7 linked regions of the Homo sapiens genome follow. The protein of the gene in region 7 interacts with the protein of the main gene of each other region in a pairwise test. Each region holds a gene or a part of one and is shown on either strand. Other genes may lie near its edges.

What was found.
Region 1: the proteins of LMO2 (region 7) and IFT43 interact in binary tests that used the Homo sapiens proteins (3 or more experiments, as listed by UniProt).
Region 2: the proteins of LMO2 (region 7) and ABI2 interact in binary tests that used the Homo sapiens proteins (3 or more experiments, as listed by UniProt).
Region 3: the proteins of LMO2 (region 7) and CBY2 interact in binary tests that used the Homo sapiens proteins (3 or more experiments, as listed by UniProt).
Region 4: the proteins of LMO2 (region 7) and C1orf94 interact in binary tests that used the Homo sapiens proteins (3 or more experiments, as listed by UniProt).
Region 5: the proteins of LMO2 (region 7) and ZNF410 interact in binary tests that used the Homo sapiens proteins (3 or more experiments, as listed by UniProt).
Region 6: the proteins of LMO2 (region 7) and TSEN15 interact in binary tests that used the Homo sapiens proteins (3 or more experiments, as listed by UniProt).

The regions. Positions count from the first base shown.
Region 1 is NC_000014.9:75,988,763-75,992,262, forward strand, and holds part of IFT43 (intraflagellar transport protein 43 homolog), read left to right. Parts: intron 1-122; coding exon 123-215; intron 216-3,500. UniProt on the Homo sapiens protein: As a component of IFT complex A (IFT-A), a complex required for retrograde ciliary transport and entry into cilia of G protein-coupled receptors (GPCRs), it is involved in ciliogenesis.
Region 2 is NC_000002.12:203,397,894-203,401,393, reverse strand, and holds part of ABI2 (abl interactor 2), read right to left. Parts: intron 1-3,500. UniProt on the Homo sapiens protein: Regulator of actin cytoskeleton dynamics underlying cell motility and adhesion. Functions as a component of the WAVE complex, which activates actin nucleating machinery Arp2/3 to drive lamellipodia formation.
Region 3 is NC_000013.11:45,701,046-45,705,119, reverse strand, and holds the start of CBY2 (protein chibby homolog 2), read right to left. Parts: upstream 2,801-4,074; 5' UTR 2,730-2,800; coding exon 2,655-2,729; exon of another isoform or gene 2,605-2,654; intron 2,346-2,604; coding exon 2,265-2,345; intron 1,610-2,264; coding exon of another isoform or gene 1,529-1,609; intron 1-1,528.
Region 4 is NC_000001.11:34,217,269-34,219,631, reverse strand, and holds the end of C1orf94 (uncharacterized protein C1orf94), read right to left. Parts: intron 947-2,363; coding exon 871-946; 3' UTR 501-870; downstream 1-500.
Region 5 is NC_000014.9:73,921,359-73,924,858, reverse strand, and holds part of ZNF410 (zinc finger protein 410), read right to left. Parts: intron 2,794-3,500; coding exon 2,653-2,793; intron 2,161-2,652; exon of another isoform or gene 2,123-2,160; intron 1,465-2,122; coding exon 1,337-1,464; intron 158-1,336; coding exon of another isoform or gene 56-157; exon of another isoform or gene 40-55; intron 1-39. UniProt on the Homo sapiens protein: Transcription factor that binds to the sequence motif 5'-CATCCCATAATA-3', and is specifically required to silence expression of fetal hemoglobin in adult erythroid cells.
Region 6 is NC_000001.11:184,068,730-184,071,720, reverse strand, and holds part of TSEN15 (tRNA-splicing endonuclease subunit Sen15), read right to left. Parts: intron 1,106-2,991; exon of another isoform or gene 989-1,105; intron 1-988. UniProt on the Homo sapiens protein: Non-catalytic subunit of the tRNA-splicing endonuclease complex, a complex responsible for identification and cleavage of the splice sites in pre-tRNA. It cleaves pre-tRNA at the 5' and 3' splice sites to release the intron.
Region 7 is NC_000011.10:33,885,577-33,889,076, forward strand, and holds part of LMO2 (rhombotin-2), read right to left. Parts: intron 1-3,500. UniProt on the Homo sapiens protein: Acts with TAL1/SCL to regulate red blood cell development. Also acts with LDB1 to maintain erythroid precursors in an immature state.

The sequences.
Region 1 (3,500 bases), on a different chromosome or scaffold from region 7:
CTGCCTCGTCCTCCCAAAGTGCTGGGATTGCAGCTGTGAGCCACTGCGCCCGGCTGGATTGTCATCTCAGTAGTGGCCCAAATGACATTTGGGTCAGCAGTGCCTTCTGTTTCTCCTTACAGAGGGCCAAGATGGGTCGCCGAGCTCAACAGGAGTCAGCGCAGGCCGAGAATCACCTCAATGGCAAGAATTCCTCTTTGACTCTGACTGGAGAGGTGGGTGCTAAAAAAAAAGAAAATCTGAAGAAATACTGTTTAAGAGTTAGTGATTCCTTAATGACCAAGGATTTGGTATTCCATATTTCTTCTCTTGAATGCCAACCCTTTCTCCTGTCTTGATTTGGGAATTCCCTTCCTTGGCATTTGTCCTTGTAGCAGGAAATGGAAGAACTTTTTTTCCTTGATGCCAGACTAGTTTCTGTGCATTTCCTTATATTCTTAATGTAGAACTTTTTATGTTAGCTGAAGCAAGGGACTGGGAAGTTTCAAAATCCAGTAGGATTCCAGGTTTTTATTTCCGCTGAATAAATGCCAGTGAGGCAGACTGGTGACGTAAGGTTGGATTACACAATTGGACATTGCTCTCGGTGGTGACCTGCGCTTTCTACAGTCTTCCGGCAGGAAGCAGATCATTTACTGGCCTTACTTTCCTGGAAACTTTTCCGAGTAGCCTGGAATTATGGGAAATGATCCAGCTTCTTTGTGGAGGGTGGGTAATTCTGATGAGCAATACTTTTTACTGCCAGGGCACTACTTTTGGCAGCTTACTCAGAGCCCCTTTTTACCTTCCTCTGTCCATTTGAAAAAACTTTGCAAAAGTCAGCCTCAGGGTCATCCTCTGCCAGAAGTTAGCTCTTCTCTAACCTCTCCAGGCTGACTTAGCAGTCCTTCCTTTCACTTCCCATAGTACCTATTGTGAACATATGCCATTATATGTGAATTGTCTTTTTACATGTCTGTCTCCCCCACCGGACAGTGAGTTCCCAGACAGCAGGAAACCTGGCTTCTAGCTTGCTGGCCCATAGTAGGTTTGCAACAGATGAAGAGACCCATGCTGAGAAGCCTAATGGGTCAGGCAGGTGCATGAGCAAATGAACCGGGTACCTGACATGGACACACTTCACTTACATATCACATAGGTAGGAATATTCTTCATTTTCGTAGGAAATGCATTCTCCACCACTTTCTTAAGCTCTCCACATGGCCTTGTCCATTTATCTTTCATTTTCTCCTTTTAGAAGTGTGGGTATGGAGAATCATTACTTTAAGATAACATCTGTGCTGGCCTAGAAAAACTAGCAGCTGACCCCTTGGCATCACTGCCTGGAAGAAACTAGGGGAGTGAGTTAGGGCAGGGGGACTGGGAACTGGAGGCCACATGCCCCCTCTAAAGGGACAACCACTACTTAGCCAAAGCTGGTTGGTGCTGTCGAGAATACAGGCCCAGTATTGCCAGATATGATTCTTCAAGAGATGCTGGCAGTCTAAAATTTTATGTGAAAGCAACACATTTTTAGAGGTTAGCACCTGATTAAGAAAACCTAATCACCATATGGACTGGATATTAAATCATCATATGGGCTGGATTTGGTCCAAGGATTGTCAGTTTGTAACTGCGGCCATGGCACCTCCATTGTGATACTTATTACATTGTATTCTAATTGTTTACATATCTGGTTCTCTCATAAGATATGAGCATCTGGAAGGCAGAGGTTGTGTCTTATCATCGTACCCTATTATCTGTCACAGTGCCTGGCAGAATAGGCCTGCAATTGTTATTGCGCAGGATGAGGTGGGGTCAAGTACATAGTGTGTGATGTACTTACACATTAGAAGCTATGTAGAAGTGTTATGGGGCCTGGGGCAGGGAGGTTGGGAGGCGAGGATAGTGGAGCATTGGAGGCACAGTTAGGAGAGGTGATATAAAGTAGGAATTTGGTGAAAGAAGATATACCAGACCCAACCCTGGATCTCAGGGAGCTTGAACTGCAGTGGTGTATGTATTTAAAGAGAAAACGCGGAAGCAAATGACTGAGCTGATGGAAGCCAATTCTTGGCCTCTGGCACTTTACACTGTTCCACATGGGTCCAGGAGGATTAATTCCAACACCAGATCATTCATTCATTTACTCAACAACTATTTATTGAAGCACACAGTAAGTGCCAGGCACCATTTTGCAGGGTTGGCATATTTCAGTGAACAAAAGAGACAAGATCTCTTGCCATAATGGAAGTTACATTCTCGTGATCACTGGCACCCAGGAAGAATAATTAAAAGTCTACTTAAGGCTAGGCACAGTGGCTGATGCTTGTAACCCCTGTAACCCCAGCACTTTGGGAAGCCAAGGCAGGAGGATTGTTTGAACGTAGGAGTTCACGACCAGCCTGGGCAACCTTGTCTTTGCAAAATATTTAAAAATTAGCTGGGTTTGGGTGGCATGTGCCTATAGTCCCAGCTACTTGGGAGGCTGAGGCAGGAAAATTGCTTGAACCCGGGAGGCGGAGGTTGCAGTGAGCTGAGATCTTGCCATTGCACTCCAGCCTGGGCAACAAGAGTGATATATACATAAATATATAATTAACAATAAGAGTATATATTATATATATATATATAAATATTAACAAGAGTGTGTGTGTGTGTGTGTGTGTGTGTGTGTGTGTGTGTATGTATGTATATATATTTTAAAGTCTACTTAATTGTGAAGGAGGTTATAGCCACCTATGGTAGTTAGGTGAATGAGCCTGTGATGACCTCATTAGGCCTTGAAGCCTTATATGACCCCCATACCAAATCAGCTCCTAGGCTGGGGTCAGTGGGCCCTGCTTGCCTACCATCCACTTCCCTTGGCTCCCATGTGAGAATCATTGCTGTGAGAATATAACTCCATAGTCACAGAGTGTGATGAATCCTTTCAGGGTTTCAGCCATTCAGTAATACCTACTTATTTCGAGGTTTACCTTTTTTTAACTCTGTGCATTACCATTTTTGTGGGAGAACATGATGAAAAGTCATTCTGCTCTTCACCCAACTGTTGCCTCTGAAAGCAAGATGCCAGTTAGGATTCCAGGATCCCTTTCTCCCTGGGCTAATTGAGGTTTAAACAGTGTGGGCAGCCTCCCACGGGGCCAGATGCTCACTGTGCTGTGTGGGACTTTTTGGCTGTTTCTTTCTAAAATTAGATCCCAAGACTTGTGTGTGTGCCCATTTACATTCCGATTCTATTACTTGATATATTTATTTTTGTCCTCTTGCTGACTGTATTCTAGGATGAAGATATCCATGCAAACGTAAATATGGTACCTGGGAGCTGTCAGACATGCTGGAGTTACTTTAGACTTAAGTGGAAATTAGTTCAAACACATGGTTATTTTAAAGCGAGGTAGTGGAGTTGGGAGCTCTGGTGAAGGAAGCAGAAAGAACACAGGGCTTCGCACCAGAGGACTGGGTGCTAATTGCCTGGATTGTGATTAAGTCCACCAATCTCTCTAATTCTCCATTTC
Region 2 (3,500 bases), on a different chromosome or scaffold from region 7:
AGCAGACAAGGGAGAAGGGGAGGGCAAGAGAGAAGAGGAGGCGGAGAAATAAGCAGGTGGAGAAGAAAGCGGAAAGGGGACAGGAAGGTAGAGGAGGAGGAGATGAAGGTGGAGGAGGGCAAGAGGATAGCAGAGGGGAAAGGAAAGGAGAAAGAGAAAGGGAGAAAAGGAGGAGATAAGTGAAAAGGAAAAAAAAAACACTTTTGCTAAACCCAACAGGAAGCCAGAGGGCAAAAGAATCCACTGAAACATTTCATGGAGGTCAGCCTACTGGAGAAGAGGGGAGAGTAGAGGAGGGGGGACTGGAGGAACAGATGATACCTGGCACACTCATCTATCCATTTGTGCCTAAGGTTATCCTGAAATTTTTTAAATTCTAAAATAAACTACTTGAAACACAGTGAGATAAGACTTATGTAATATGGAATTTGATGAATGCTTGATTTGTTGAAATCTTCATGATCAAACACTGCAGTCATATCCTCTTCCAGGCTTCATATTTCTCAGCTGAGTCTTACCATCTTTATTCTACCTTAATATGAGACTATCTTCTTGGTAATTTTAATTAAAAGTATTAGAGGAAAACAACACTTTGACAATTTTTCATCTTGTCTATGATTATAAAATGGTTTTATATGACTAAAATTGTTCTACAGGAGCTGAAAGTTTACCAAGCTTAGATTCATATGGAGTCATATAAGGATTATAAGAGCACTCAAGGCTTGTTATAACATTTAAACATCTTACATGTGTATCAAAAACTTAAGCACTCAAGCTTAAACATAATCCACTATCAACTGAGAAGCCTCTGTAACCATGATAAAAATGAAAACATATAAACTATGATTTAAAAGGCATATTTAGTTATTTGAACCACTGAATACAATTAGCATTTCAGTAATTAATCTATAGCAAACTAATACAAACCTACGATCAAGTTAAAAACATCTGGATTAACATCATTATGAATTTTATATAGTTAGATCTAGTCTAAAACCTCACATGGGCTGGGCATGGTGGCTCAGGCCTTTAATCACAGTACTATGGGAGGTGGAGGCGGGTGGATCATTTCAGATCAGGAGTTCAAGACCAGCCTGACCAACACGGTGAAACTTTGTCTCCATTAAAAATACAAAAAATTAGCTGGGTGTGGTGGCTCACACTTGTAATCCCAGCTCCTCAGGAGGCTACGGCAGGAGAATCACTTGAATCCAGGCAGCGGAGATTGCAGTGGGCCGAGATTGCCACTGTATTCCAGCCTGGGTGACAGAGTGAGACTCTGTCTCAAAAAAAAAAAAAAAAAAAAAAAAAAAAGACACTATTCACACTATTAATGAGTCGATTTACCATTTGGGGTTTTAAAAATATATATACCTAATTATCATAAACCTAGCGATAAAACCTGAAACTAAAAACTTCTAGAAGAAAACACAGAACAAAATCTTTATGACTTCAGGTAAAGAGTTCTTAGATATGCCATCAAAGCACGATTCATTTAAAAAAATTTTGAAAAATAACACTTAATAAAAATGAAGAATTTCTGCTATTTGAAATACAACATCAAAAAAATAAATGAACAGGCTGGACCCAGTGGCTCACGCCTGTAATCCCAGCACTTTGGGAGGCTGAGGCGGGCGGATCACCTGAGGTCAGGAGTTCAAGACCAACCTGGCCAACGTGGTGAAACCCCGTCTCTACTAAAAATACAAAAATTAGCTGGGCATGGTGGTGGGTGCCTGTAATCCCAGCTATTTGGGAGGCTGGGCAGGAGAATCGCTTGAACCCGCGAGGCGGAGATTGCAGTGAGCTGAGATCCTGCCATTGCACTCCAGCCTGGACACCAAGAGTGAAACTCTGTCCGCCCGCCCCTCCTCCCCCCGCCAAAAAAATAGAAAATAAGCAAACGAATCACAAAATGGAAGAAAATATTTGTAACTCATAATCTATAAAGGACATATATTTAGAATATAAAAGAACTCAATGATAAGGAAAAAAACCCTATTAAAAAGGTGAGAAGGAACAAAACATTTGAACAGATACTTCACCAAAGAGGATATACACATGGCAAATAAGCACATGAAAAAAATGTTCAATATCATTAGTCATTAAGAAAATGCAAATCCAAACCACACATGTAATGAGAAACCATTACACATGTATTGGAATGGCTAAAGCTAAAAAAGGCAACACCAAGGGCTGACAAGGATGCAACTGGAAACTCACACATTGCTGCTGGGAGTGTAAAATTATACAGCCATTTTGGAAAACAACTTGGCAGTTTCTTATGACGTTAAAAATTTACTTACAATATAACCCAGCAATTCTATTCCCTAGGTATTTACCTGATATAAAAACCCATGTGCACAAAAAAAACCCTGTATGTACATGTTTATAGCAACTTTATTCATAAGCACTCAAAACTAGAAAAATCTAAATGTCCTCTGAGAAAGGGATAAACAAATTGTGGTACATCCCCATACAATACAACACTACTAAGCAATAAAATGTAATGAAATACTTAAACATGCAACAACATGGGTAATTCTCAAATGCATCTGGCCAAAAAAAACAGATCAAAAAAGCTACATACTATATGCTTTCATTTATGTTATACTTAAAAAGGCACAACTTTAGAGAAAAAAAACACATCAAGGGCTTACCAGGAGCTGGGAGTGGAAGGGAAGGACTGACTATAAAGGGGGCATGGAGGAAATTTTTGCGATGATAGGACTGTTCTGTAACTTGATTGTGGTGGCAATTACATGTCAGTACACCTTTGCCAAAACTCACAAACATATATGGTATAAAGGGTGAATTTTACTGTACATAAGTTATACCTTGGTAAAAAGAAAAACAATTGCTTGGTAACTCAGGTACTGTATAAAACAGACTATCCTGATATAAATTATTAATAAGACATTTACCTTGCTTTTTGTTTTAAAAACCACAGTTAATTATCCCCTCACATAACAAATGTTTATTTAGTGAACACTGAGCCAGGCACCTGTTATTCAATTAATATTTAATTACTAAAACATAGACTCTCAGTTGGGGGTGATTTGTCCTTTCTGATGCATTCTTTATCAAAGCAGGAGCATAACGAGATTCCTATATTTAACTAGTTAGTTTGGCCTAACAGTTGTATCTGGATCAAAAAACACCCCATGTTTACATTTATCTACTGCAGAAAGCTTTTCTTTAAAAGTCATATAGAAGGAATCCCACAAGACATCACCCAAAATCCATTTTGGCTAAAAGTGTCTTTTAAAACATGTAAAGATCTTATATATGTTTAACATGTATAACAGCAAAGCTGAATATAAATGCCATGAAGTTCTTCACTGGCAAGTGGAACACTACGGTGATTGATATGCTTTGAATCTGTGTCCCTGCCCAAATCTCATGTTGAATTGTAATCCCCAATGTTGGAGGTGGGGCCTAGGGGGAGGTGACTGGATCACAAGGGCGGTTTCTCATGGTTTAACACCATCCCCCTTGGA
Region 3 (4,074 bases), on a different chromosome or scaffold from region 7:
CCTTAGGGTGATAACATGTAGTGATCACAGGCATTTCCAATGTAATTGAGAAGCCCAAACGCACAGCAGGACTGGCAGCTGGGAGCCAGAGGCAGTCTCTGGAGACAGAGCTGCTGCCACAAGTCCTTTCTGAAACAAATGGAAAGTGGACTCCATCCCAGAATAGAGCAGCTTTTGGCAAATACAAAATAAGAAGCCCAGAGATGAGTGGTTAAGATGCAGGGAGAAGACTCCATCTCCAAAAAGCAAGAGAAGAACCATGGAGCTAAGATGCAGCATGGCCCAGCTTACTGGCATGTGCCCTAGTATAGCGGAGAACATGGGCACTGATTTGAGTTCAAGCCCCTTCCTCGAGCTCTGCCATTACTAGTGGGGTTCCTGGGGTTGCCGGTTCCTGTACCTGTAAAATCTCTACCTCACACTTGCTTGGCCCCATGCCCGACACATGATCGCACCAACATTCAGTCAATATTTCTTCCTCTCCTTGCTTCCCAGATCAACCCTGTCCCCTAAGCCATGTGCCATCTCATTTAGGGAGGTAGAGTGAGCACACTGGTCCCTCTCGCAGGCCTGGTGGTATTTTGGTTCGGATCATCTAGTTGTAGACACCCACACCCATCCCCCAGAGTGCCAGTCTTGAGCATCCTGACAGGTGTCCAAAACCTGGTGCATGGCTTGTGCCCTCTTGGCAGGTGTACGCACGAAGCTGCATCTGCCCTTGTGAGGTACACGTGCCCAGACAGGAGATATCCTCTCATTCTTCACCCACTCTGCCCCACAAGACCCCAGCAGCAGCACCAGGTCCTCCAGCACAGGAAGCAGGCAGCCCCAAGACAAGCTTGAGCTGTCTTAAACCACCTTCTCTTCTCCTTGATCGTTGGGCTGTTTCTGGGAGCTGGGGAGGGAAAGTTGCGGTGGGTGTTGATGGAAACATCATTCCAATTTCTCTATCACATGACCACTACTCTTTCAAATCCTACCCCCTCCTTCACACCCACCCCTAGGTTGGCATCCTCTGCCTGACCAAGTTTCTTAAACACCAACTTTGCTAACATTACCGAGGGTTACTATCAGAGAACATTCAGCCATCTGAGGTACTTTCAAAGCATGTAAAGTTGAGGGGCCCCAGGATTCTGGAAGAAAAGATTGGTTTATATGGGCTATGAGGAATCACAGCAGTAACACCCACTCTTGGGGGAGTAGTGGCTAACACAACTCCCTGCGTATTTCAGGTGGAAAGAATCAGGCCCAAAAAGATTCCTACAGCTTGTTATCTTGTTGAATGATCAGGGGGAAGTTATCTTATATTCTGGCTAAGATTCATGGGCTAAAAGTAACAGAAAAGTGACTGTTCATTACAAAGTTATAAAGATAATGTGAAAATAAACATCCAGGATGTTTTCTTCTTCCATATTTTTGCCTCCCGCTGAACATACTTGCCTAGATTGTTACAATTATATATATGGAATGCCCACCAGTGGTCAATCCTCCTCCTACACATCCCTGGACAGAGCTCTCAGATAGTTACCTCTGCATTGGATTCCTCCATCCTACATTTCAACCCCTCTGGTTGCATGGCCCTGGTCTTCCAATGAGGACTTAGGTGACTCTGGAGAAAGCAAAGCCACCCCTTTGTGACATAGCAGCAGTAGAAACAATTCAATCAAGAGGACTCCACTAAGGAAACAGCTGATTGCAGGCAGGAGGAGACCTGAGACTCTATAGCCTGTGAGGACTTCACCAATTCATTGACTGAAAAAGCATCTATGCCCATGGCCCCTACATCTGTCTTTGATGCATAGCAGGGCTTAATTCTCTTGACAGCTCCAAATAACTCTGTACCCCTTTGTCCACGGATGAGGTTTTCTTCTCATGGATTCATTCTTATGCATTTGATTTCAAGTCCCAGTTCTAATTCTCCCCCAGAAATCCAGAGTGATTGCACAACACTAAGCACCAAAAGATCTCGTTTTGAGAAGGCTGGGTTACTTCAGTGTATCATAGAAACTTGGAATGTTAGGACTGGAAGTTCTTACCAGATCATCTGACCCAGCCACCTCATTCATGGGAAAAAGAACCCAAGGCCCAGAGGGGCTATGTGGCCTTCCCCAGCACACCGCCTGCTGGCACCCAACCCAAACTATAATCTGAAGCCCTGACTATCTCTGCTTATTCTACAACATCTTGCTAGAGTTTTGAAGGAGGAGATGGGGGGTTATTCTGGCTAACACTGATAGGTTACATCCTTCTGTGATTATCCCTACCTGAGGTAGAACCACACTGATTGGAATTTCTAGGCTTTCAGATCTGGTATCTCTTTTTCTTGTATAATTTGGCCTTGAGTGCTGTGGAAACGAGAAAAGAAGAAGATTACTGCTTCCCAGCTCATCCTCTGGGCCTCAATTGCTCGCCTAAAAAACACAGAACTTTCTACTCATTTATTTCTCTCTTGTCAATTATGTACAATTATGAAAGTCTGAGTCTGAAAGAACGTGTAGATGATATCTGGCATGATGGTTTATCAATCTCTGAACAGATATTAAGCTAGATATTATAGTTGATGTAAAAGGCTTTTGAAAGTTTTTGAAGTGGAGATAGCTGTACCTGCTTCCCTGTCTAAGATGATTATTTCTATCTCAAGTAAAAAGCCATACCAATGTGAGTTGCCAGGTATAGGTCCTATGCAGAAGTTGGTCACCAAAACACTCAGAACATTCCAGAGGTGACATCACAAAACAATATGGTGTTTTTCAGGGCTCATGGTTTCTCTCTGAGCATCACAGGTGGGAATGAGGCATCTGACAGGCAGGAAGAGCTTGTGGGTGCTGTGACTACTTGGCTGGTCAGGGTCAGTGTGACACACACAATAGCCCAAACATTAGCCCCCTGTTGGGTCATTCCAGCTGCCATTCGTATTCTCACTGCCAGGCTAAGTTGAGATCCCTATTCTCTCTCCAGAAGTGGCATCTTCTTGGAGTTGGGTCACTCAAGAAGAAAGAAACACAAACTGAACTCTTCCCATACCAAGGGAGAAAGTGTAGTCTGAGGTGTTTTCTGACACTACTCAATTCCTTAATTCTCTGACACCAACTGTGTGCCCTACAATTCAATTTCATCCTGATGCTATCTACCAGAGTTAGTGTTACAGAGCTGAAGCGGCTCACTACCCAATGCAATAGAAGCCAATACTAAAACACTAAGTTCTTTAAAAAAGAAAAACTTGTATATTGAAAGTCAACTCCCAAGGAGACAAGAGTCAAGCTCAAATCTGTCTCTCTGTGCTGACATTAAGGTAGTATTTTTATTAGAAAAGATTCAGGGGGTGGATTCTGAGATTAGTAGGTGATTGGTGGATGGAAATGGGAGGTCTGGAAAGTCCCAAAGAGTAAGAAACCAGTTACTTAATTTTTGAGTTTCAAGATAGCAGATAAGAAAAGAAACTTAAGCCGCTGAAACTCCCTCCACTTGTGAGATCAAGAAAAACCTGGCTGAAACTGGTTGGAACCAAGATGGCTAACTGGAGCTTGCACAGAATAAGCTTGCTGATGTCATAGCCTGAATTTCCACCACGTTTCATACTAACTCTCCCTGAATTTGCCATGCAACTCAGGAGTTAACATGAAGAAATAACTATGCATGCCCAAGGACTTTCCAGACCTCCCTTTTCCTTGCACAAATCACCTACTAATCTCAGAATCCACCCCCTGAACCTTTTCTAATAAAAGTACTGCCTTAATGCCAGCAGAAAGAGACAAATTTGAGCTTGACTCCTGTCTCCTTCAGAGGTGACTTTTAATATAAAGCTTTTCTTTTTTTCAAAAATTTGGTGTCAGTGTTGGCTTCTAGCACATTGGGCAGTGAGCCCCTTTTGCTTGTTAACAAACTAGAACCCCAGGTGAGACGAACAGCCTGTCCAAGGTACTGTTGCCCCTAGTGGTGTGCAGGCCCCCTGCACTGATCCTGAGTGGCCACCTAGACCAGGGTGTCCAGAGGCTCGACTATAGGGTTCCTTCTTCTCCACCATGGCACTTCAGGCTCCCTTGGCACTTCTCTTTTGGGAAAATAAATTGCTTC
Region 4 (2,363 bases), on a different chromosome or scaffold from region 7:
CTCCATCAATGTGATCAAGTTGCTCTCAATGTCCTTATTCGAGTCATTGGTAAGAGTTGAACAAGACAGGTCTAAGGATGCCACCATTAGGTGCAGTTTTGACATTGACCTCTATCTTGGTACTGATGTACAATCATTGGATATAGTCTGCCACATTTAGCATCAATTTTGAAATTGTTTTCCAGGCTACATTTCCCAATCGTTTGTCCAAAAGAGACTTTTTATGGAAAACTTCCACTCGGGATAGGACAGAGTGCATTCCGTTTATGATGTCCCTTCCTGAGATGCATACACTGGGATGTTGAGAGGTGAGTGGATCACAGGGGAAAAGAGATAAGCCCTCTCACTTATGATCCCTGAGGTCCAATATTTAGATAGCAGCACTCTGAGGACTCCAGCCTGTGGTCTCCTTTCATGCCCTGAGTAAACGCTGAGTCTCGTGGGGAAAATGAGAGGTAAAGATTACACAGAACACCACAAAAATAAACAGGCACACTCCATTTCAAGTAGCTCATACTTTTATCATAAAATACAAACTTTCTAAAATTAAGTGTCTTACTTCTATTTTACCAACAAAAACAAAAACAAAAATCACTCATGTTAGCTAAATATAGATGCATAAGTGGTTGAGCAAGCAAGTATGAATATGAGGGTCATGTGTGTGTGTGTGTGTGTAGCTTGTGCCATGTGTGAGGAGGGCTATTTTTGTGTCAGTGTTGGCCAATAGATGAATCTGGTCTTGCTGTTTTGTCTGTGACCTGGTCAGAACCTTGCTTTTCCAAACTTCATACCAAGCTTTTGCAGAATCCAAAAATCAGAGCCCCTAGTCCTGATCCAAGGGCTAAGGGAGGAGAAGGGAGAAGAGGAGATCTAAAAGTTTATGCCATTCCCACTGGAAGAAAAATAGGGGCTGTGCATCAAGGGCCCTCCGGATGTCGAGCCGAACCTGGAAGAGAGGGAGGGTGGATGCCATGATGAGATTCCTAATGTTATCGGAGAGAATTAGAAAAATATATATATTAATTTTATGGTTGTCAGAAACAGTGAAGACCATGACAGGCTTGGAGGGTAAAGGCTTTGGCATAAGAAAGGCTTTGGCCCTGGGAAAGTAAAATATTAAAATAATACAATTAGAGGACAATCAAGCGCTTCTCCTTATGCTTACTTGGATCAGGAAGTCCCTGGGAGCCTGTAAAGATTGTTTCAATGGAGCCTACACTCTCTCCCTGCCCAAGACCCATAGAACAGGGACCCTCTCTGGACCTAAGCATCTTACCTGTATTCCTGTGACCACTCTACCTGCCTTAGAGGACCAGACATGTCCCTCAGGAAAATCTACAACATCAGAGAACTTAGAGGCAAGTCCAGCATAAGGTCTTTGGGGCTGGACAATCCCAGAGTCCCTCCTCCCCTTCCAGCACTAAGCTAAATCAGGCCCTTCACTCCATCCCTGACTCAGAAATAAGCATTGAGACATCACTGAGTGCCTAGGGCTTTGCTAGACCCTCAGGGAAGGAAGGGTTAAGACGTGAGCCTCACCGTCTAAGAGCAGAAATGCACACGCCTCTCCTTTTCTCCCTGGCACACTCCTATCCATACTTCAAAATAGAGTTCAAAAGCCATCTCCTCTGTGAAGACTTCCCTGACCTCTCCAGATGGAATCATTTACTCACACTGCTGGAATCCTACTGTAATTTCTTCACCCATCTGCTCAGATACTTTGAATGAATGGGAACAGAACTCAATACAAATTACAATAGAGCAAATGGCTAGATTTAATCTAATCCTGGGATTCTCAATCACTTTTCAGCTGGGCAGATGCATATTATAGAAGAGATTCACATTCATGGTACCCTTCTATGAATTGATGAAACAAAAAGCGGGAGCAGAGGAGGGAAGAAGCAATGGAAATAGACCACGGCATTCATTTGTAGTGCCTCAGCAGCTAACTCTGTCTCTTGCTCACTGAGTCTCCATGGGCAAGTTGGGCTGGGTTGTCTCACTAGCTTCTCACTAAAATAAGTGCCAAGAGAGCAGAGACTTTACCTATTTCATATCATGTGCCCAGGGCCTGACACAATGTGGGTCCCTCATAAGCAATCCATGCCAGCGGTAACCCCACCTCTGTTTCTCTCTTTCAGAAATCATATTGGGATCATTCAGAAATCATAATGATGTTATTATAGGGATACCCTGCCTTCCACTCTGACTTACAAAATAAAGGCTGTAACCCATACTTCAGTATTTAACAATTATCAGTAATCAACAATGATCATGACACAGCTCATATCTGATTGGCACACATGCAGCTAGGTCCTCCAGGTTGAGAACTTCTGATCAGATCAACGGCCACCGGCATGATC
Region 5 (3,500 bases), on a different chromosome or scaffold from region 7:
AAAAATACAAAAAAATTAGCTGGGCGTGGTGGCACGCACCTGTAGTAGCAGCTACTCAGGAGGCTGAGGCAGGAGAATCGCTTGAACCTGGGAGGCAGAGGTTGCAGTGAGCCGAGAACGCACCACTGCACTCCAGCCTGGGCAACGGAGCGAGACTCTGTCTCAAAAAAAAAAAGAAAAGAAAAGAGGAGAAAAGACGGAAGAGCACCATAAAAACTAATGTAATACTGAAAGGATCCAAGCTACAGAGGTTTTGACAAAAGTTTATGCATATGAAATGTGCTCGTGATGAAGTCATCCACTCCCATGACACAAGACCAGTGAAATATCCCAAGATTTTAAAACACTGACCACTTTGCATTCTGTTTCCTGAGTCAAAGCCAAACTACAGAGTTGAAAGTGCTTTAGCTCAACCTCAAACCCTTTTTGTTTAGATCAGAAGTCACCAACCCCCAGGCCATGGACCAGCACTGGTCCGTGCCCTGTTAGGAACCAGGCCACACAGCAGGAGGTGAGCAGCAGGTGAGCAAGCATTACCACCTGAGCTCCACCTCTCCTGTCAGATCAGCAGCAGCAACAGATTCTCATAGGAGCGCAAACCCTATTGTGAACTGTGTATTTGAGGGATCTAGGTTGCGCACTCCTTATCAGAATCTAATGCCTGATGACCTGAGGTGAAACGAAACCGGTCCCTGGTGCCAAAAAGGCTGGAGACCATTGATTTAGGTAATGGTTCTCACTTAGCAAGCAAGTGAACAAATCTGTATATGCCCATTTGGTTAAGCCTGGTATCTCCCAGACATATGACCATAGCAGAATGAACAATAATTATGTTTAATGATTTTGTTACTACCTTTTTTGCTGAGGGACTTTTTCCAGGATGTTATTTCTGGAGAAAAGAAAGGGATCTCTAGGAAATACTTGCTCCTGTCTGGTACAGAAATTTCACCCAATTTACACAGGCCAGGCCCTCTTCTCTGAATAACTTAACAGGTGAGGTCAACATGCATTTATTCAGTGCCTGCTGTGTGCTTTTATAAAATAAAAGCTGTATCATGTTATAGTGTGGCAGAGAATAGTGGGAACAGACATCAACAAGGAATGTATATAAAAGAACTTTAAAGCCGGGAGTCCCAGCTGTGACAGACCAATCTCCAATTCATTAAGACCCTAACCCTCAGGCTCCTTTCAAGCTGAACTCATGCTTAATTTAAAGGAAAATATTCGTGCCAAAGTTTCCAGGAAATGGAAACTGGAGACTTTTTCAGGTCCTCTAAATTCTCAATCATTCCCCACATGAATTGTCACAGAAACAAAGGGCAAGAGACCACTTTACCTCTTGTGGATTTACTGCAGTTAAGACAGAAACTTCATATGATTGCCTCCCTGACTGCATGGTCACCAGGTGATGTGTCACATCAGGCACTGAAGACAGGGAACGTGGGGATCCTTCAGCAAGCACCTCTGTGAAGCAACAGAAAAATGTTTCAATGAAAAGTGAATCCAGAGATACACCTATCTGGATCATTAAGCCTCTCATTAACAACTCTAAAACTCTATTCCTCTATTTCCCACATTCCTCTATTTCTTCCAAGTTAATCCTGTCTGATAAGCATTATCAGTGAATTTGGAAAGTAATATAAAAAGAGAATAGAAAGGCAAGAAATCTTAATACAGGATTTAGAATAATATGGTGTTAGCACTTTTAACTGAATTAAAACTATGTATGAAACAGGCAAAAGTCTTAGGCAAGCAGGTAAGGGAACCAAAGCCACCCTTAAAAGCAGTCGCCAATGATACTAATAGCACTTACTAACTGAATATGATATGAGTAACAAAAACATAGGGTCTCACAGTTACTAAATGTTCATCAGTGGGATCACCATGAAAATCTTCTGGAAATAGTTTATGGATATACCACTTAGCCCTCAAAAAACTAGAAGTTTCTTCTAGGGGTTTTCTAGATTATACAACTATTTTATGCTGTACCATATAATTTAATGTTGGCTTATATACTATCTTTTATGTACTCAATGTTCTTTCCCATATATATGTAAGCTTTCACTTCTCAACTGGATTTTAAGGTCCCTATCTTCTACTTTTGTCTTTCCCATGGTGCCAGGCACACAGTAGGCACTGAATAAATGCATGCTGACCTCACCTGTTAAGTTTTTCAGAGAAGAGGGCCTGGCCTGTGTAACTTGGGTGAAATTTCTATACCAGAGAGGAGCAAGTGTTTCCTAGAGAGCCCTTTCTTTTCTCCAGAAGATATGGCTTTTGAAGGTATGGAGAAATTGCTTTATATCTCCTCTGTAAAACCTGGTTATGTTCTGTTTAAATGTTCTAAAAGTTAAGTTCTTCCATAACTGCAATAGGAAAGATAGAAATAGTTGGGCTAGGATGCTAGGATTAGGAATAATTTTTTCTTAAGAATTTTTTCTTTTTATTCTTTTATTATATTATCTTCAATGAAAAAAAATTTTTTTTTAAACAGATTGACTAATCCACCCCAGAGAATAAGAACACAAATGCTACTCATACCACAGCTACTCATAAGAAATGAGATTTAAACATACATTGTGGAGACACCCCATTCCTTAGCCCCTAGTTGCAGCCCATTTTTCCCAAATAAAGGAGAGTTGGAAGTCTTACCATCATCAACTCCCAGGATAGAATTGGTATTTGGTAGGTTCAAGGACTCTCCACCAAGGCTGGGCTGGGAATTCATAGACACCAGGTTTTTACTGGGTACTGAAGCCTCTTCAAGCAAACTACTGCCCATTAGTGGCTCAGCTGCACAGAGAATAGGTTGTGAGAGACATACAGCAATCAAGGCTGTGCCTGGTCCTCATTTTCTTTCAACAGAAGCTGGCCTTCTCTTTCATTACTAGAAGTTAACCTATAGATGGGATGCCACCCCCTATTTCACCTACTTTCGAGAAACAAGAATAAACCTAGAAGGGAAAGAGTAAGCCTTAGAAGATAATGATCCTTGCTTGTGTTCAGCGTCTGAAGAATTAGCATATGAAACAGGATAGGTGGATCTTTAGAAAGGAATATTTGGAATAATTAAGGAAAGATATGGCGAAGGAATAAGAATTAAAAAGAGTTATCAAATTTCAGGCAGGGCAAAAAGGTAGTCATGACTGGTAAATAAAATATGCTTCCAGCCTGGCCAACATGGTGAAACCCCGTCTCTACAAAAATATAAAAATCAGCCAGGTGTGGTGGCACCTGCCTATAATCCCAGCTACTCAAGAGGCTGAGGCAGGAAAACTGCTTGAACCCAGGAGGCAGAGGTTGCAGTGAGTCGAGATGGCGCCACTGCACTCCAGCCTGGGTGACAAAGCAAGACTCCATCTAAAAAAATTAAAAAGCTTAAACTCTTCCCATGTGGAAATCTTTTATCACTGTGTTACTCAAATGCTTGTTCATGGATCAGCACTAGTTACCATCAAACTCACTAGGGAAACTTTTAAAACTACAGATTCTAGGATCTT
Region 6 (2,991 bases), on a different chromosome or scaffold from region 7:
TTCCTCTCACCCTCCTTTATCACCTTCTTTTCTATTAAATAGGTATTTTCTAGTACACCATTTTAATTAATGTATTTTTTTTTACTATAGTTTCTTGAGTTTCGTAGTGATGACTCTAGAGATTACTATTGCGTCTTAGTTTATCACAATTTCTCTCAGCTTAATACTAACTTGATTCTAAAAAATATAGAAATTGCTCCAATAGAGCTTTATTCCTTTCCTCCACCTTTATGCTATTATTGTCATATATGTTTATATATTTAAACCCAGTAATATAGTGTTGTAATTATTACTTTAAATAATTTTCTTTTTATAAAGTTAAGAGGAGAAAGGAAAATATATTAGGGTCTTTTACATTCACATATTTAATATTCCTGGTATTCTTCATTTCTTCACATAACTGTCTGGTGTCATTGTTTACTCCAATATAGCTTCATTCCTTCCCCCATCCTTTGTGTTAATAACATCATATAAGTTACTTCTTAACGTGCTATAAGGCTGGTCAGTTGATTTTTGACAAAGGTACAAAGGCAATTCAATGGAGAAAGTCTTTTCAAGGATACTTGAAATGAAGATAGTAGTACACCTTTATGTTTACACATAAGATTATTATATGAATCAATTAAATGGCATATATGAAAAGACTTCATAAACTGTCAAGTGGTCATATTATGTAGTATATATACAACTTTGCTACCTTGCAAATTGGGATATAATATTTATAGATACCCCTGCCTCCATGATTATTGCTAAAACTGAATACTAACCCAAACATACTAAGGTACACTGTGCCATTAGTGGAAATACAGAAAATGTTTCTTTTCTGAAACAGTCTGAATCCCAGAAATTGACTTAGTCCTTAAAAAATTATTTCCACCTATGCTGAACTGCATTACAACTAGCTAGATTCTTATTCACAAGAATGATTTACTTTAGAGAAAGATATTCTGATAAAGCAACGATAGATATTAATCAGAAACTTCATTACTCAGCACTGATGGGAAGTCACACTGTGATAAAAGGCAGCATATCACAATTGCTTCTTCAATGCAAATCTTTTAATGTAGCTAAGTATTTTCCTTCTTCAAAAGTGGCACGCCAATATCTAAATTAATAATAATAGAAAAAGATACATTTTTATAGGCTGTCCATCTTGAATTAATTTTTTTCTACAAAGATGGCAAAGAAGAAACAGACAATGGATCAACTAAAATTTTAACTTATCTACATCTTTTGTTGTCAGCATGTATCATGATTACTTCACAGTATGCAATATACATAAAACCCAATATATAATGCACATAAAGCCACTTCAATGCCACAAGATAAATTTCTCTAAACATCCCTAACTGGTAGACTGTGATGAGAATGGGACACAGACAAGAAGGAAGCCTGTTAACACAACTTTAACACATTTTCCATTTCTGAAGATATAATGTTATTTAAATCAGAAGGTGTGTTTGTATGTGTGTGTTGGGGGGTGGTGTTCACTAAGGAAAACTATATGGGAATTGTAGCCCATATAGTGAAATTTAGAATAGAAATTTCCATCTTATTCACTACTCTTTTTCCATTCTCAATTTATATCTGTTTCCAGAGTTCTTTGATTTAAGCAGCAAAACATTTTCATACTTACCCCAAATACCCATGCAGGAAACCCTAACATTTGAAAACTAACTCAGAGTTGTAAAAGGGGTTTTGTTTTCAGAGTTGAGAGAAATCACTGTCAAAAATGAAATGGAAGTTCCCATTTCTGAGGCCTTGTTTATGGTATTTGGTTGGAGGGGGCGGTGATTGTGAATTACCAGTGAATCTTCTCACTAGTAACAGAATAAAATAGTTTATCTGCCTCTGTTACTCAAGGTACATTCCAGAAGTCTTACAGTTTCTTGTTCAGGATCTCTTCTAGTCGATTTTTCAAGTATGTTTAAAGCAAAGCCATCATCTTTTCCTCAACAAACAAGAACAAGACCTTTCTTGTTTGTTTCCATTATAGGATACTGCATAAAATCTTAAAAATGTTTATTTTGCCTTTTAGTCAACAGATTATATTTTCCCAATCTATTAATAATAGCAGTAACAAAAGATTCTTAAGTTCTTAAAAAACCACATATGATTGTAAAGATCCCAAGAACATTTAAGTATCACCAGAATACTATAATCTCACTTAATTTCTAACAAGCTTATGGTTTGAAATCTCACTTTAGAAATGACAGAATGTTTCCTTATATGTATAAATTTTAATAGCTCAGTTCTTTGGAAAAATATTGTGAAGATACTGGAAATATTGTATGTTTCATCACACAAATCTACAACAATAAACGATAAAATTCTTTATAGTTCATATTGGATAGAAATCAACCTATGAAAAATATAACCTATGTATTAATACTAACAGTTTCAAGTTTTAAACTCAGTTATATCTAAAGGGAAAAATCCCACCTAAAGAAAAATATGTATCAATAATAATAGCTATTTAATAACAGCAACAAAATTTGATGCTCACAACAGGTTTTTATTTCTCATAACTGTTCATAGAGGAGCTCTGTGTACTGAAAAAAAGTGATTCCAGAGCTTCATATAGCTAACTTGAAAACAAGCCTGAAGCAAATACACAGTTAACACTATTTGGCTAATACCTTTAGTCCAAGCTATTTAAATGCTTTCCATAAATCTTAGCATTGATTTTTCTGTAATGATTCTGAAACAGATACTAAGTAATCTCTGGAGATTTACACAGAGGACAAGAAGTTGAAGACCGCATTACTTTTAACTTCAAATGCTATTGAAATAGAATGTATCATGGGTTAAAAGTAGTATTAATTTCAACCCATAGAAAGTATCTCCTATCCTCTTCAATGTGGCCAAATAATATATGCTATAGCCTTATTAGTAAAAGGGAATAATTCCTTGATTTGCCTCATTATGATATAATGGAATGACATGCCATAATGCAACTCTGAAACATAATGCAAAATTAAGTTGGTGTCA
Region 7 (3,500 bases):
AATTGCTTTGGGAGGCCCAGGAAGGGAAGTTCCAGCCACAATGGCAATGAGGTTTATTGTGCCCAATGGGGAGGAAGTGAGAGGAGAGAGTTATAACTTTGGTGGCCTGTGTGGTGGCCACCCTTTTCAGGTATGTGACAAATGCTGATTGAGGGATCCCCCAAGGGAAGCTGTTTGTGCTCCAGCAAGGGGGTCCCTTGGTAGATGATGTGGGTAACTGGTGGGCAGCCTCCAGGATGCAGTGGTTGGCTGGGCTGTGGTCATCACCTGCAATGTGGCCATTGTCTCCCTGGGCTGGTACACCTTTTTTTTTTTTGAGCCAGAGTTTCGCTCTTGTCACCTAGGCTGGAGTGCAATGGCACAATCTTGGCTCATTGCAGCCTCTGCCTCCCAGGTTCAAGCAATTCTCCTGCCTCAGCCTCCCAAGTAGCTGGGATTGCAGGTGCCCACCACCAAGCTTGGCTAATTTTTTTGTATTTTTAGTAGAGACGGGGTTTCACCATGTTGGCCAGGCTCGTCTCAAACTCCTGACTTCAGGTGATCCACCTGCCTTGGCCTCCCAAAGTGCTGGGATTACAGGCATGAGCCACCATGCCCGGCCACAACTCTTAAGTCAGATTTGGGTCATGGAGATATAGGCTGACATCTGGAAGGGTGTCACAAAGATGCACAAAGCAGAAGGGGTGCTTGAGGGCACATTTAGAAGGGGTGCTGGAGGACACCACATGCGCTGGGCTGACAATTGGGCATCATTTCTATGATAAAAGTAGTTTGTAGGGGAGGTGGGACTAAACATACAGGACCACATTCCTTTTTGTTTGTCCTGATGGCTTCTCAGGATGATGTGATATTCCTGGCCCATGGTGTTGTAGAAGAATTGTACATTCCAAACAGATAGGGATGACACTGTGGGTGCAGTATTGCCGAGGTGTCCCAGCGCTGAGTAGGGAAACTGTGTCCCAGGCCACCAGCTATATCAGGCATAGCCAGCTATAAAAAACCTAAAGGTTTCACAATAACATTTTCAGTTTTTAGACTCTGTAATAGCATTTAGGGCTGGCCTTTTATAATGACAGGGGCATCTGTATCCCACAGCTGTGAGTGGCTGTCTGTGCTTTGGCATCCGTGGTGGGGAATAGACAGCCTCAGGCATTGTTATTTCAGAACACGAATGTTGGGGGGCTCCTTTGTCTTGCTCCAAGATCCACATGGTGGTAGGTGTCAGTCCAGGGGCCAATATTCTATCCCCTGTGGAACAAGCTTAACATTAGCCAGCCTTTAAATCCATCACAACTGGTAGATGTGTTAGGGGATGGGAGAGCCTCATTTCCAGGCTGGTAGAAACATGTTGTCAGGGACTTCGCTCTTCCATCCATAGCCAGCAGGTCCCACTTATTATTTGCCATTGGTCTGACACCGATGCCTTGTGAATTGTGGATAGATTGAAAAAAGATATAGGAATGAAGGATCAGAGGAGCAATCCCACATGGGAATCCATGACTTGGAACCTGGGACTCTTGTCAGAACTAGTAAGTGTAAAATGAGGGCATTTTATTATGGATGAGGGGCCCATAGGGGCAAGTATCAAGGGAGATAAGAGCAGTAAGGAAAACTGATTTGGAAACCACAAGCCATTTTGTAGCTTTAAGAGAATATACATCATTGTGGAGTTTGCGGTAGCCTGGTGGGAGAAGTGAGCCAGTGACAGACAGGAATACATGTCCACCATGGTTAGGGCATATTGTGGGGTTGGGGAACCTGAGGGAAGGACTCATTACCGTCAATTTTCCATCATGAGTGTGGTCAGTTTCCTCAGTGATTCTGCTAGGAGTGACATATTGCACCCACCCATACTTCTCCACAGATATTCAATATGTTTGGGATAGCAGTTGATTATGGGTGGGAAACGTAAATGCAGCATCTTATTGTGGAAGGCCTTAGCTGCAAGTCTCCAGGAATGTGGATTTTTTTTTTTTTTTTTTTTTTGAGACAGGGTCTTGCTCTGTTGCTCAGGCTGGAGTGCAGTGGTGATACTGTGGTTCACTGCAGCCTTGACCTTCTGAGTTCAGGTGATCCTCCCACCTCAACCTCCCAAGCAGCTGTGTGTGCCACCACGCTTGGCTAATTTTTGTTTTGTTCTTTTGTTTTGTTTTTTGTTTGTTTGTTTGTTTGCTTTTTGTAGAGATGGGGTTTTGCCATGTTGCTCAGGCTGATCTCAAACTCCTGGGCTCAAGCCATCTGCCCGCCTTGGCCTCCCAAAGTGATGGGATTACAGGTGTGAGCCACTGCACCTAGCCAAGAATGTGGATTTAATGAGCCACTAGTCCATGGAAGACTCTTGAACAGGGGAAGGATGTGAGTGGAGTTGCATTTGGGTTGGGTTGGGGTGGGGAGAGGCTGGAGGTGAGGCTGCTGTGCTAGGAGCTTAACCACCAGTGAAGGGTTGAAGAAAGGAGGTGGGGGCAGGGGGAATGACTGAGTGGGCAATGACAGAGGCACTCACGTGACTGGCCAAGACTTGTCTGCAGGAGACCAGGGAGCTATAGCCAGGCAGCTGCAGGGCCATTGATAGAAGCTGCCATGGCTTGAGCACTTGCTCTATGCATACTCACGCAAGCGCATTCGTATATGATCTCGCTCATCCCTCACACTGAGGTCATTTGTGGGATGCAAATGGCCAGCCTTATGCTTCTGCCCCATCCACACAGGTCAGGGGCCATACTCTGTGCCACTGCCAGGGGGATCCTTTCATAACCTGCATCAGATCATTTCGCTCCTCTGCTTGAAGCTCTCCCAAGGTTTCCTTCTTGCCCAGAGTAAAAAGCCAAAGTCCTATAAGGCCCTGCATATCTGGCTCTAGCCATCTCTGTGTCCCCTTCTCTTACACTCCCTTCCTCCTTCCCTCCCTCTGCTTCATCCACACAGGACCCCTTGTCATTCTTCAAACTCTTGCTTTAGGGCCTTTGCTCTTCTCCTTCTTCCGGGAACATTCTTCCCCAGATGTGAGTTCTTCTTATTAGAAAGGTCTTCCTTCATCACCTGAGTAAGACACTAATAACCCGGGCCAGCGCATTCCATTTTCCCTCACTCTGTGTTATTTTTCTCCCTAGCACATATTGCCATCTGGCATACTATATGTGTACTTGCTTATTTGATTGGTGTCTGTCTCCCCCTCTCAAGTTTGTAAGCCCCTTTCAGGCAAGAGCAATGTTTGTTTTGTTGACGTCTACGTATCCGCAGTGCCTAGAACAGTTCCTGCTGTGTATGAGGCGCCCAGTAAACACTTGCTGAGTGGATGAATGAAGTGTGTATTATCATCCTGATTCAATGAAAGGGAAAACTGAGGCTCAGGAAGGGTACGCAACTTCTCCAGGCAGGACAGCTAGTAGTCGCCAAAGCCAGGGTTCAAGTCTGACTACAAAGCCTGTCCTATTTCCGTTAGGGTAGAATACCCTCGAGGAGTCTTGGATCTTTGTAACTGAGAAAATGGATCTTTAATA